Linked DNA regions of Homo sapiens. The protein of the gene in region 2 purifies or fractionates together with the protein of the main gene of each other region. This does not show direct contact. Each region holds a gene or a part of one and is shown on either strand. Other genes may lie near its edges.

Evidence for each region.
Region 1: the proteins of TANGO2 (region 2) and BPNT1 fractionate together in Homo sapiens (co-fractionation; one large-scale study listed by BioGRID). This does not show direct contact.
Region 3: the proteins of TANGO2 (region 2) and MAP4K5 fractionate together in Homo sapiens (co-fractionation; one large-scale study listed by BioGRID). This does not show direct contact.

What each region holds. Positions count from the first base shown.
Region 1 is NC_000001.11:220,086,917-220,091,051, reverse strand, and holds the start of BPNT1 (3'(2'),5'-bisphosphate nucleotidase 1), read left to right. Parts: upstream 1-1,263; 5' UTR 1,264-1,366; exon of another isoform or gene 1,367-1,408; intron 1,409-4,135. UniProt on the Homo sapiens protein: Phosphatase that converts 3'(2')-phosphoadenosine 5'-phosphate (PAP) to AMP and inositol 1,4-bisphosphate (Ins(1,4)P2) to inositol 4-phosphate. Is also able to hydrolyze adenosine 3'-phosphate 5'-phosphosulfate (PAPS) to adenosine 5'-phosphosulfate (APS).
Region 2 is NC_000022.11:20,052,015-20,055,663, forward strand, and holds part of TANGO2 (transport and Golgi organization protein 2 homolog), read left to right. Parts: intron 1-450; coding exon 451-570; intron 571-1,345; coding exon of another isoform or gene 1,346-1,422; coding exon 1,423-1,537; intron 1,538-3,649. UniProt on the Homo sapiens protein: May be involved in lipid homeostasis.
Region 3 is NC_000014.9:50,442,054-50,445,702, forward strand, and holds part of MAP4K5 (mitogen-activated protein kinase kinase kinase kinase 5), read right to left. Parts: intron 3,142-3,649; coding exon 2,988-3,141; intron 1,984-2,987; coding exon 1,886-1,983; intron 1,718-1,885; coding exon 1,676-1,717; intron 764-1,675; coding exon 679-763; intron 1-678. UniProt on the Homo sapiens protein: May play a role in the response to environmental stress. Appears to act upstream of the JUN N-terminal pathway.

The DNA.
Region 1 (4,135 bases), on a different chromosome or scaffold from region 2:
AGTGAGCCGAGATCAAGCCATTGCACTCCAGCCTGGGCGACAGAGTAAGACGCCGTCTCAAAAAATATATATATGTATATATGTGTGTGTGTGTGTGTGTGTATATATATATATATATATATATATATATATATATATATGGTTAAAGTAATATAATTTAAGTTATGTATATTTTTCCACTTCCCAAAAAGGGTCTACTTAACTCACAGAGTTATTGTGAAAATCAAATGAAGACGTAAAAGCCTTTTTAAGCTGGGCGCAGTGGCTCACACCTGTAATCCCAGCACTTTGGGAGGCCGAGGTGAGCAGATCACCTGGGGTCAGGAGTTCAAGACCAGCCTGGCCAATATGATGAAACCCCGTCTCTACTTAAAAAACAAACAAAATTAGCCCGGCGTGGTGGCGCGCCTGTAGTCCTAGCTACTTGGGAGGCTAAGGAGGAAGGATCGCTTGAACCCAGGAGGAGGAGGTTGTAGTGAACCTAGACTGCGCCACTGCACTCCAGCCTGGGCGACAGGATGAGACACTGCCCCCTTCCCCAACCACGCCCCCCAGTAAAAGATCCCATCTGTACACAAAAAATATTTTAATTAGCTGGGTGTGGTGGCGCGCACCTCCACCAGTAGTCCCAGCTACACGGAAGGCTGAGGCGGGAGGATGGCTTGAGCCTAGAAGTGGGAAGGCAGCAGTGAGCCGTAATCGACTCTGGGCGACAGAGCAAGCTATCTATCGCTTAAAAAAAAAAAAAAAAAAAAAAAAAAAAAGGTAAGCAAGCATCTTTGACACAATTCTGCATAAAGTTGCTGTGTTATTGCGTGGGGAGTGGGAGGTGGAGGTGTGTGTGGTGGACCTGCTGAAGCCTGTCCACGGACCGCTAGGGGTTCGAAGTTAAATAGCCGCAGAGTGGTATCACTAATACAAAGAACATTTTAAAACAGTGAACTCTACGAAGTGGGCTGGAAGACAGCTGAAACCAAAACCAATCTTTTTTTTGTTTCAACACACTGTTGCTGGCTTAATGTGTTCTTTCCTTCTTCTTTTTCTTTTTTTAGCCAATCTTTGAAAGTTGACACATCTTTCGCTTTTATTTAATGCAACAGGTGACTTGCACCTACGGAGAGCTTGGAGAAAACACGGACAAGTGGAATTTTCCCGCGGATCAGGAGTCTAAAGAGGCAGTGTGAAATCGCTGTTGTGCGCTTGCGCGCAGTTTCCCGCATGCTCAGTAGCTGAGGTAGGGATGCCATCCTTCTCAAAAGACTTATTGACAGTGCCAAAGCTCGGTACTGGACACAACGAGGGACCTGGGTCTACGATAACGCGCTTTTGCTCCTCCTGAAGTGTCTTTGGTCCAACGTTGTTCCAGGTTTGTCACCGTTTCTCTCCGGCCGGTCAGGGCAAGAGCCAGGTAGATAGGATTTATGTTAAAAAAATAAAACGAAAAAGGTTTATGTGAATCAGATTGCTTCTCCAGATATTCTAACTTCCGACTTGGACTCTTGAGTGTCGATATTTTAATTGTTTATCTGTGCTTTTATTTTCGTGATCCGGAAGGTTTTTATAGCCATATACTGTAGAAACAAGACAAACCTAGACATTGAGTTTGTTGATGCACCCAAATTTAGAAACTGCTTGGTACCTAAAATTAAATTTCTTTAAACAGCAAATATTCTTCCAACTGCCATTTCTACATATTTATAGGTTTGCGTGATTTATTTGGATTTCTCTGTAAATATAATTGTTGGTTCAAAAGATACGTACTTTATACTTTTATTAAGGTTCTCAAAACTCTCCTAAGAGGGTTCACCGCTTTGCCAACAATGCTCAGGAACATGTTCCCTCACACCCTTGCAAACTGGACAAAGGACAAACTCTTCTTCTTTCTTCTTTTTTCTTCTTCTTCTTCCTCCTCCTTCCTCCTCCTTCTTTTTTTTTTTTTTTTTTTTTTTTCGAGACGGAGTCTCGCTCTGTCGCCCAGGCTTGAGTGCAGTGGTGCAATCTCGGCTCACTGCAAGCTCCACCTCCCAGGTTCACGCCATTCTCCTGCCTCAGCCTCCCGAGTAGCTGGGACTACAGGCGCCCACCACCAAGCCTGGCTAATTTTTTTTGTATTTTTAGTAGAGACGGGGTTTCACCGTGTTAGTCAGGATGGTTTCGATCTCCTGACCTCGTGATCTGCCCGTCTCGGCCTCCCAAAGTGCTGGGATTACAGGCGTGAGCCACCGCGCCCAGCCTTTCTTTCTTTCTTTTTTTTTTTTTTTTAAGACAGGTTCTAGCTCTGTCCCCCAGGCTGGAGTACAGTGGTGCCATTATGTCTCACTGCAACCTTGACCTCCCAGGGTCTGGTGATTCTCCCACCTCAGCCTCCCGAGCAGCTGGGACTACAGGCATGTGCCACCACACCATCTAATTTTTGCATTTTTTTGTAGAGACGAGGTTTTGCCATGTTGCCCAGGCTGGTCTCGAACTCCTGAGCTCAAGCAATACACCAGCCTTGGCCTCCCAAAAAGTTCTAGGATTACGGGTGTGAGCCACTGCATTCAGCGACAATTTTTTTTTTTTTTTTTTTTTTTGAGTCGGAGTCTCTGTCGCCCAGGCTGGACTGCAGTGGCGCGATCTCGGCTCACCACAACCTCTGCCTCCTATGTTCAAGCAATTTTCCTGCCTCAGCCTCCTGAGTAATTTTTGTATTACTATGCCTGGTTAATTTTTGTATTTTTAGTAGAGATGGGGTTTCACCATGTTGGCCAGGCTAGTCTTGAACTCCTAACTTCAGGTGATTCACCTGCCTTGGCCTCCCAAAGTGCTGGGATTACAGGTGTGAGCCACCGTGCCCTGCCAAATTTTCTTTTCTATGCCAATCTTAAAAATAAACAATCATGGCCCGGCGCGGTGGCTCACGCCTGTAATCCTAGCACTTTGGGAGGCTTAGGCAGGCCATGAGGTCGGAAGTTCGAGACCAGCCTGACCAACATGGAGAAACCCTGTCTCTACTAAAAATACAAAATTAGCCAGGTGTGGAGATGCTTGCCTGTAATCCCAGCTACTCGGGAGGCTGAGGCAGGAGAATCGCTTAAACCCGGGAGGCAGAGGTTGCGGTGAGCCAAGATCTCGCCATTGCACTCCAGCCTGGGCAACAAGAGCAAAAACTCTGTCTCAAAAAATAAATAAATTAATTAATTAATTAAAAATAAAATAATCATTTCTCATTGTTTTAGTTTGCATTTCTTTCATAATTAGTGAAGCTGAGTATTTATGTATTTAATGGCCAGTGCTTTTCTCTTTGTAGGTGTTGCCCGTTCTTGTTTATTTGCTCATTTTTCTATTGGATTATTCAGCTTTTATATACTGATCTTTTACAAATTAAGTCATTTGTCTGGTATGTGATACAATATTTTTTTCTCATTTTGTCAAGTACCTGTTTATTTAGTTTATGGTATTTTGGCCATGTAGAAGTTTTAATTTTATTTTTATTTATTGATTGATTGATTTTGAGACGGAATCTCGCTCTGTCACCCAGGCTGGAGTGCAATGGTGCAAATGATCTCAGCTCACTGCAACTTCTACCTCCCAGGTTCAAGCAATTCTCCTGCCTCAGCCTCCTGAGTAGCTGGGATTACAGGCGCGTGCCACCAAGCCCGGCTAATTTTTGTATTTTTAGTAGAGACAGGGTTTCACCAAGTTGGTCAGGCTGGTCTTGAACTCCTGACCTCGTCATCCGCCCGACTTGGCCTCCCGAAGTGCTGGGATTACAGGCCACCGCGCCCAGCAACTCTTAGTTTTATAGAGTCAAATTTATCAATAGAATATTTTATGGATTCTTGGTTTTATGCTTAAAGGGCATTTACCAAGCTTATGAAGTTTATAATTTTTATTTCCATGCTTTTATGGTTTCTTTTTTTACTTTTATAAACCATGCATTGAAATGTATTTATATCAAAATGTATTTATATCAAAATATCAAAAGAATGCAAAAAGGACTCAACTTTTTTTTTTTTTTTTTTTGAGACGGAGTCTTGCTCTGTCGCCCAGGCTGGAGTGCAGTGGCACCATCTCGGCTCACTGCAACCTCCGCCTCCCAAGTTCGAGCAATTCTCCTGCCTCAGCCTCCCAAGAAGTTGGGGTTACAGGCGCC
Region 2 (3,649 bases):
TTGGCGGGGGTGAAGGTCCTGGTTGTGTGCTGGGCTCCTAGTGAAGGGCCTGCCCTTTGGGCCTGGTGCATCCTGCTGGGTGAGGACAGCCAGCGTCCCTGCACCCCATTCATGCGATTGGAGCCTAGTGCTGCCCCTCAGCCTTGACGCTGGCCCAAGTGGAAGGATGTGTTCTGCAGGGCATCTGTTGGGATAGGTGTGGTTGGTGTCATAGTTGTCCTGCAGGACAGGGATCTCACTTGCACGACCCATGAACCCCAGGGGCTGCCTGGCCTTGAAGAGTTCCAGCCACGATTCCATAGCTGGGGCTGCTGGGCCAAGCCGCATGTCGAACGTCCTCGAGGAGCTTGAGGCAGGAGCTGGGCCGAGTATGCGTCTCCCAGGGCTGGGAACCAGGTGGGGGACTGGAATGGGTGGCATCAATGGTGGTAACACTGTCATCTGCCACAGGGCTGGACATGGAGGAAGGCAAGGAAGGAGGCACATGGCTGGGCATCAGCACACGTGGCAAGCTGGCAGCACTCACCAACTACCTGCAGCCGCAGCTGGACTGGCAGGCCCGAGGGCGAGGTAAGGCGAGTGGGGTGGGGCCAAGGTGAGACAGGGTGGGGTGGGGCAGGCCTAGGTGAGACAAGGTGGGGCCAAGGGACTACAGGACTGGCCAATGTATGGTGGAGTGGGGCGGGCCAAGGTAGGAAGTGCCAAGGTGCTTGTGCTTGGGAGTGGGATGGGGCAGGGCTGAGGTACCGTGGGGCAGGGCCAGGTTACAGAGTGGGCGGTGACAAAGCGTGGCAGGGCAGGGCCCAGGTAAGGGTGGGGACAAGAAGGGGGAAGCTGGGCCCCGTGGCAGGTGGGTGGCTTCCGTGGGCATATCACTGCCGCCACTGAGGTGTGCTGCAGGGGTATGCGGCAGAGACAGGAAGAGTGAGGAGGGGAGCATCCCATTTCCCACACCCTGGCCCTCTGGCGTCGCAGCCAGGAGCCCACTCCCACCTGACCCACGCAGCACTGTTTACTCCTCTCAGGGCGCACTCTCCCCTTGTCCTCATGCATGGCACTCCTGACTGCTGTGTCACTGTCCCCTGCCTGGAATGTTTGTAGAGTAGATGCCTTCCCCGAGACGACAGCTCTGTGGACACACATTGTCCCCACTGAAAGGTGTTGTTTACTTCATGCTGGATTTCCATAGGAAGACATAGTGGGGAAATTTTTTTTTTAATAAAATGAGCAGTTTTCAGTGCCGACCTGAGTGGCAGCCAGGCTAATGAGGTGTGGCTGACTCTTGCGGCAGTCATGACAGGCCAGGGCTCCAGTGGGACCCCTCATCTTCCTGCATCCTCCCCAGGGGGCCCCATATCAGTGTTCCTGGGAGAAGAGCACATGCCTGCAGCTGTGGACACAGCATCTGTCCCCTGCCTACAGGTGAACTTGTCACCCACTTTCTGACCACTGACGTGGACAGCTTGTCCTACCTGAAGAAGGTCTCTATGGAGGGCCATCTGTACAATGGCTTCAACCTCATAGCAGCCGACCTGAGGTGGGTCTGCCAGAGGGGGATGGCGGCTCTGCCCAGCACTGCCTCGGGGGCAGGCCTCAGGCTCATCAGGAAGTGGGGTTCCACTGGGGGCTGTGGCAGCCTCTCCAGGGACGTTGCTCCTCGTGACTTGGCAAACATTCTGAGGACTGAGCCTGTCACAGATGTACCAACTCGGGTATTTGGGGGTGAAGCCCAAGGCTTCCTGTGATGGCATGAGGGCTGCCGGATCCCTGGAGAAAGCTGAGGCTGTGAAGAACAGTCACATAGAGTGGCTCTGGCCGGGTGTCCTCCCTCCCACGGGCAGGCTGTGCAGAGCAGCCCTCCGCAGCCCTGGCTTGGAGTGACTGGGATGCTGTGCTCCCAGGGAAGCTCCTGTTGGAGATGAGGCCGCAGGAACTGCGGAGGTTTTGGTGTTTTGCCCTTCCGTGAAGTGAGCATTCCTCCCTCCTGCCCTCCTCCCCCTCCAAAGCCCCAGAACTTGGCCAATGCTGTTAGTCCGGGGCCTTCTGCCAGGACAGGCAAACGGGAAGTGGTCGGCACATTGTGGCGGGCCCTGAAGCTGCCTCCTTCCACAAGGGCAGGTCCATGGGCCTCTCTCCTGGCTCCCGAGCTCCAGGCCTGCTGTTCGTTGAGCATCCCTTGTGTGTGGCATGCCCAGCCCTGCCCCACATGGGTCTGCACACTTGCTATGGAGGCTGGGAGAGTTGCAGTGTCCCCTAGGTGGAAGGCCGAGGGCTGGTGCGGGGCACTTGCTGTCCGGAGCCGTTCTTCCTGCCCATGCCTTCGTGACTCCAGGTGGCAGAGCCCCTGTGCTCTCTGCATGCCCCCATGCTCAGGAACCACTTTTCCCGGTCAGTAGTTCCATGTGGGTCTGATTAGTCTCAGGAGAGTTCCTCTGCGGCCGTGGCACCAGCAGGACTTGGCACTCAGCAGCTGTGTGGAGGTGGGGTGCCAAGGGTGCCATGCCTTGAGCAGATACACGGGCTCCTGTGGTTGGGGGTTGGGGGTTTGGGCTCCTCAGAGCCTGTGCAACTCTCCCGGCTCCAAAGGCTGCAGAGTGAGGGTCAGCCTCCTGGACCTAGCCTGAGGATACAGGCAGTGGCCAGGAGAGCATACCACAGGTCAGGCAAAAGCTGGTGCCAGGGCCGAGGCTGGAGGGCGGGGGCATCGGAGGTCAGTGAGCAGCCCTGCTGGTAGGTGCAGATGAGGAAGCCAAGGCCTGGAAGGGAGAGAGGCTTGTCATGGCCACAGCTATCCCTGGGTGAGGCCTGCCCTCCGCCTGGCCTGTGGTATAGTGCTGGCAGCATGGGTGTCCAGTTCTGTAGGTCCTTACACAGAAAGCCCAGAGGAGATTTTTGCCTGCAAACAGTCTCTGAAATTATGAACCAAGTATCTTAGGAAAGTTGCCAAAGACCATGGTGAGGAAGAACGGGAGTGGAATGTGAACATAGACGGGGGGGCCCTTGAAGCCTACCAGGGGTGGGGAAGGTGGGTCCCACCTGGGGGCAGCACTTCGGGGAGGAAGGCACCATGCCTGGCTCTTTCTCTGCATCTGTTCCATCTTGAAGGCCCAGGGCTCCATGCCCAGCATCTGGCCTGGGAGGGCATCTCACAGGCCACAAAGAGATCCTCTTCACTTTGCAAAAAAGGCACTCCAAGTTCTAGAAGACTTACTGTGGTATTGAGGATTGGAATATTTTCAGCTGGGGAGCATTTTGAACTATTTTCTTTTTAAAAAATGATTTATTTATTTTGTAGAGATGGGGTCTTGCTATGTTGCCCAGTCTGGTTTCAAACTCCTGGCCTCAAGCAGTCCTCCCTCCTTAGTCTCCAGATTAGCTGGGACTATAGGCATGAGTCACTATGCCCAGCTCTACTGTCCCTTAACTATTTTAAAGTGTACACTTAACACTTGAGAGTAGGAAAATGTGGTCTTTGGCGCTTTCTTTGGAAGCCTCGATCACCCTGGGGCCACACTGGGGCCACCTGTCCAGAAACCCTCATAGATGAGCTGTGGTAAGGGGCCTGATGGAGAGGTTGGTGATGTGGGGATGGGGCTCAGCCCTGCAGTTGTCCCCATGGGCAGCCTCTGTGTGTCCATGCCATGGGGCA
Region 3 (3,649 bases), on a different chromosome or scaffold from region 2:
TGACAGAGTGGGAATCCAAACCCAGATTTATTTGATTCCAAATTTTTGCCTCTGAAAATGTTTCCTCACTTCAGAAACATAGTCTACATTTTAAAAAAGTTATTTTAACATCATTTCAGATGTACAGAAAAGTTGTAATAGTACAAATAATTCCTAAATACCTGTAACACAAATTCCACAAATGTTGAACATTTACTACTTCTGCTTGATCCTTCTCTCTTCCTTATGTAAATGTTTGTTTTCTGAGCTGTTTAAGATAACTTATGAGCATGATGCCTCTTTACTTTGAAATATTTGTGTACATTAAGGAAAAAAAGTCATATAACCACAAGACATTAATACTTAAACAATAAACAAGGTTATCTATAATTCTTACTAATTGAGATTATAAATTGTCCCAATAACGTCCTTTTACGGTAAAAGAAAATTCTAAATTAAGGATGCAATCAGTTGTGATTTCTCTTTAGTCCTTTAATCAAGAATAGCTCCTATACACTCCTAAATTTTAACGCCTTTAAACCAAAACCCTATTGACCTATTTAGGTTGTTGCAGGTTCCTATACCATTAGGTCTCTAAAGTCGTATTTTTAAAATAAACAACTTCAAGTCACTGATCATAAAGATCTTTCCCATAATAAATATTTTATTGGAGATGTATATAAAATTCAAACATTTTACCTTTTGTATCAGGATGTATCCAGGATGTTGCACAATTAATTTTCAAAGGACAGCCATCAAAAACTTTTGAAAAGCATGCTCCCATCTTATTTATAAAGAAAGAAATGTTAACTTATTTGATTAGAAAATTTTATATATTCTTGGAAAATAACTAACATCATTGAAATACCAAATTAACTCTTATTTGCGTATGCTTGTTGTTTCATTCCAAAACAAAATTCATATTTTCACATCATTAAACCCCTACTACCAAGACAGTCTCATATTCTTTCCTTTTGTAATCCACTATTTTATGGCACAAATATCAAATTTACCAAAAGATCTACATACATCAATAACATAGTCTAGGAATTTTAAGTTACTACTATTTTTTAGGACTGACAATTATTAATGTGAAACAATGGATAATTTTATTCAGTAACATTATAGTGATTACAATTGCAGTATAACTCTTTAATAGTCATAAGAGACAAAAAGGTTGATATTTATATTATACATTAGACTTTCACTGAATAAAAAAGGACAATGTATAAAGCATCCCATTCATACGATTGGTTCCCATCCCATTCATGGGATCATGGGGTTCCCATTCACAGATAAGTTCCACTGACTGGCCAGGAAAATGCATTAATATAAGCTTCCCTGGTTCCTTTTAATTGTATATAGTCCAATGTGAAAATCACTTTAGAGGTAGAAAGATATTTAATCCACATCAAGAAGAGGACACAGTACTATTAATATCATCGCATTAAAATTAAATAGGCCTTTGTAGGCTAATCTGATGACTCAACTGCCAGTATTTACAAAAAGTGAAACACTGTCAATTCCAATTCACACACTCAAATTAGAATACATGATGAGATATCCAAATGCATTCAATATCTTTGTATTTTATGATATCTTAACTTTCAAAGGCTCAAGTATATTGATAGCCAATATATTGCTGCTTCTAAAGAGAGAAAAAACGGCAAATAGTTCACATAAAAATATTCCTTACCAGAACTTTTGGGGTGGGTGGAAGGCCATTGATGGCTGGTTTCTATGGGAAAAATAAAATTTACTAGTGTAAGACCTCCTAAGTCTTAAAAAGAAACTTGAGACATTTAGAACTTCTGTTACTTGAATTACTGAATTAAACAGACTATGCCCCTTGCATGATAAATATAGTATTATTTACAACTAATTGCTAAATGCCTGTTATACCTACAGGGAAGTCTCGTTTGTCCTTTTTTCGTGGTAACTGTGGTGCTTGTGCTGATCCTTCTGTATTTTCACTCATCAGTTTTGAAATACCATCACCATTTCCTAAAGAGAATCATGTTAAAAGTTGAATGACCACACAAATAAGCACTTTCCTTGAAAAATTATTTCCCCTTTCTCCCACTATTTGTCTTTCACTTGGGTGATCCTTTATTGGGGAATATTCTCTACTCTCAGGTAAGTTATCTTTGGTGTCTTTCTCTAGATTCTATAGAGGTAGCATTGCATCTTTAGCAGTGGTCTTAATCCATGTTTTTCCGTATCATGAAGAAAAAAAATCTGACCTACTGACTCTGATATGCAAGGCTTTTTATAATTGAACTTCAATCCACCTTTTCAGTTGTATCTTCCAGTATATACCCTTTAAAAGCTCACATTTCTATTATAATAGACTGCATAATTCAGATTTCCCAGCTTCAGTGCATTTCATCTACCTACTGAAGGCTCACCAAGCCCTTTAACATCCTGCAAGAAGGACCAGGTACGGTCACTCATGCCTGTAATTCCAGCACTTTGGGAGGCTGGGGCAGGCGGATCACTTGAGCCCAGGGGTCTGAGATTAGCCTGGGCAACACGGCGAAACCCCATCTCTACAGAAAAAAAAAATCCTGCAAGAGCTTAGTTTCCTTATTCCCCATCTTTATCTCCCTCAGAAATCTCTGGTCTTCTGTTACATCCAGGTAATTATTTCAGAAGACACATACATAAACTGTCTTTCCTAATGTTATGTGTATGTGGGTATACCTTCTGCTGTAGACCCTGAAGTTCTGGGGGCAGAAACATGCATTCACCCTTCTAGATCCTATAATAAATATTTAGTAAGGATTCAAATTAGGATTGAAGTGAACTGAAATCTATTTATAGCCCATCCATGCAGAATTAAAGAGCCTTTACAAAGCTTTAAGCTATAATAGGATTGACTAAATAAAAAAGATATTTTTTGAAATAGGAACAAATGACTCTCATTTCAGTTTTCACTTTGATTTATTCACCCAGATAACAATATCTAGCCATATGTACCCCATGGCTGCTAATAATGCTAGCCATACCAATAGAAGAAGTCTCTGCCACAGGCCCACAACTTGGGCTACTCTGTCTTCTGAGAATTTGGGGAGCTCTGCTTTCTGAATCAGGACAATGTTTTATGGTTGATGCTTTTTCTTCATCCGGAAAGTTGTCTTCAGGGTAACTGCTTATCCTTGGCTAGTGGTACAAAGACAAAAAAGTACTTTAACAGTTATCATTAGGCATCAGAGTCTTTAGGGAAAGGGAAATGCACCTTTTTTCATTCTTCTATACAGTTCAATTCACTGGGCTAAGTGAGCAAAGTAAGAGGTGAGTTACTGCCCAACACAACTATCAACTTGCCATGTGATTTTTAATCAGCCTTAAAACTGATAAAATTTTTATAACTAATATAATTATATAAAAATCCACAAAACAACTAGAAACAATCAAGAAAAATGACTCCACTAATATGTCAAATTGTAGTCATAAGAATGATAAATGATGAACTGTTTCCCCTCCATGTAGTCAAATATTTTCTTCAATAAGCAATAACCTGTTTTTGCCTTTTTCTTTCTTTCTTTTTTTACTGAGATGGAGTCTCGCTCTGTCACCCAGGCTGGAGTGCAGTGGCACGATCTCAGCTCACTGCAACCTCCACCTCCTGGGTTCAAGCGATTCTCATGCCTCAGCTTCCCAAGTAGCT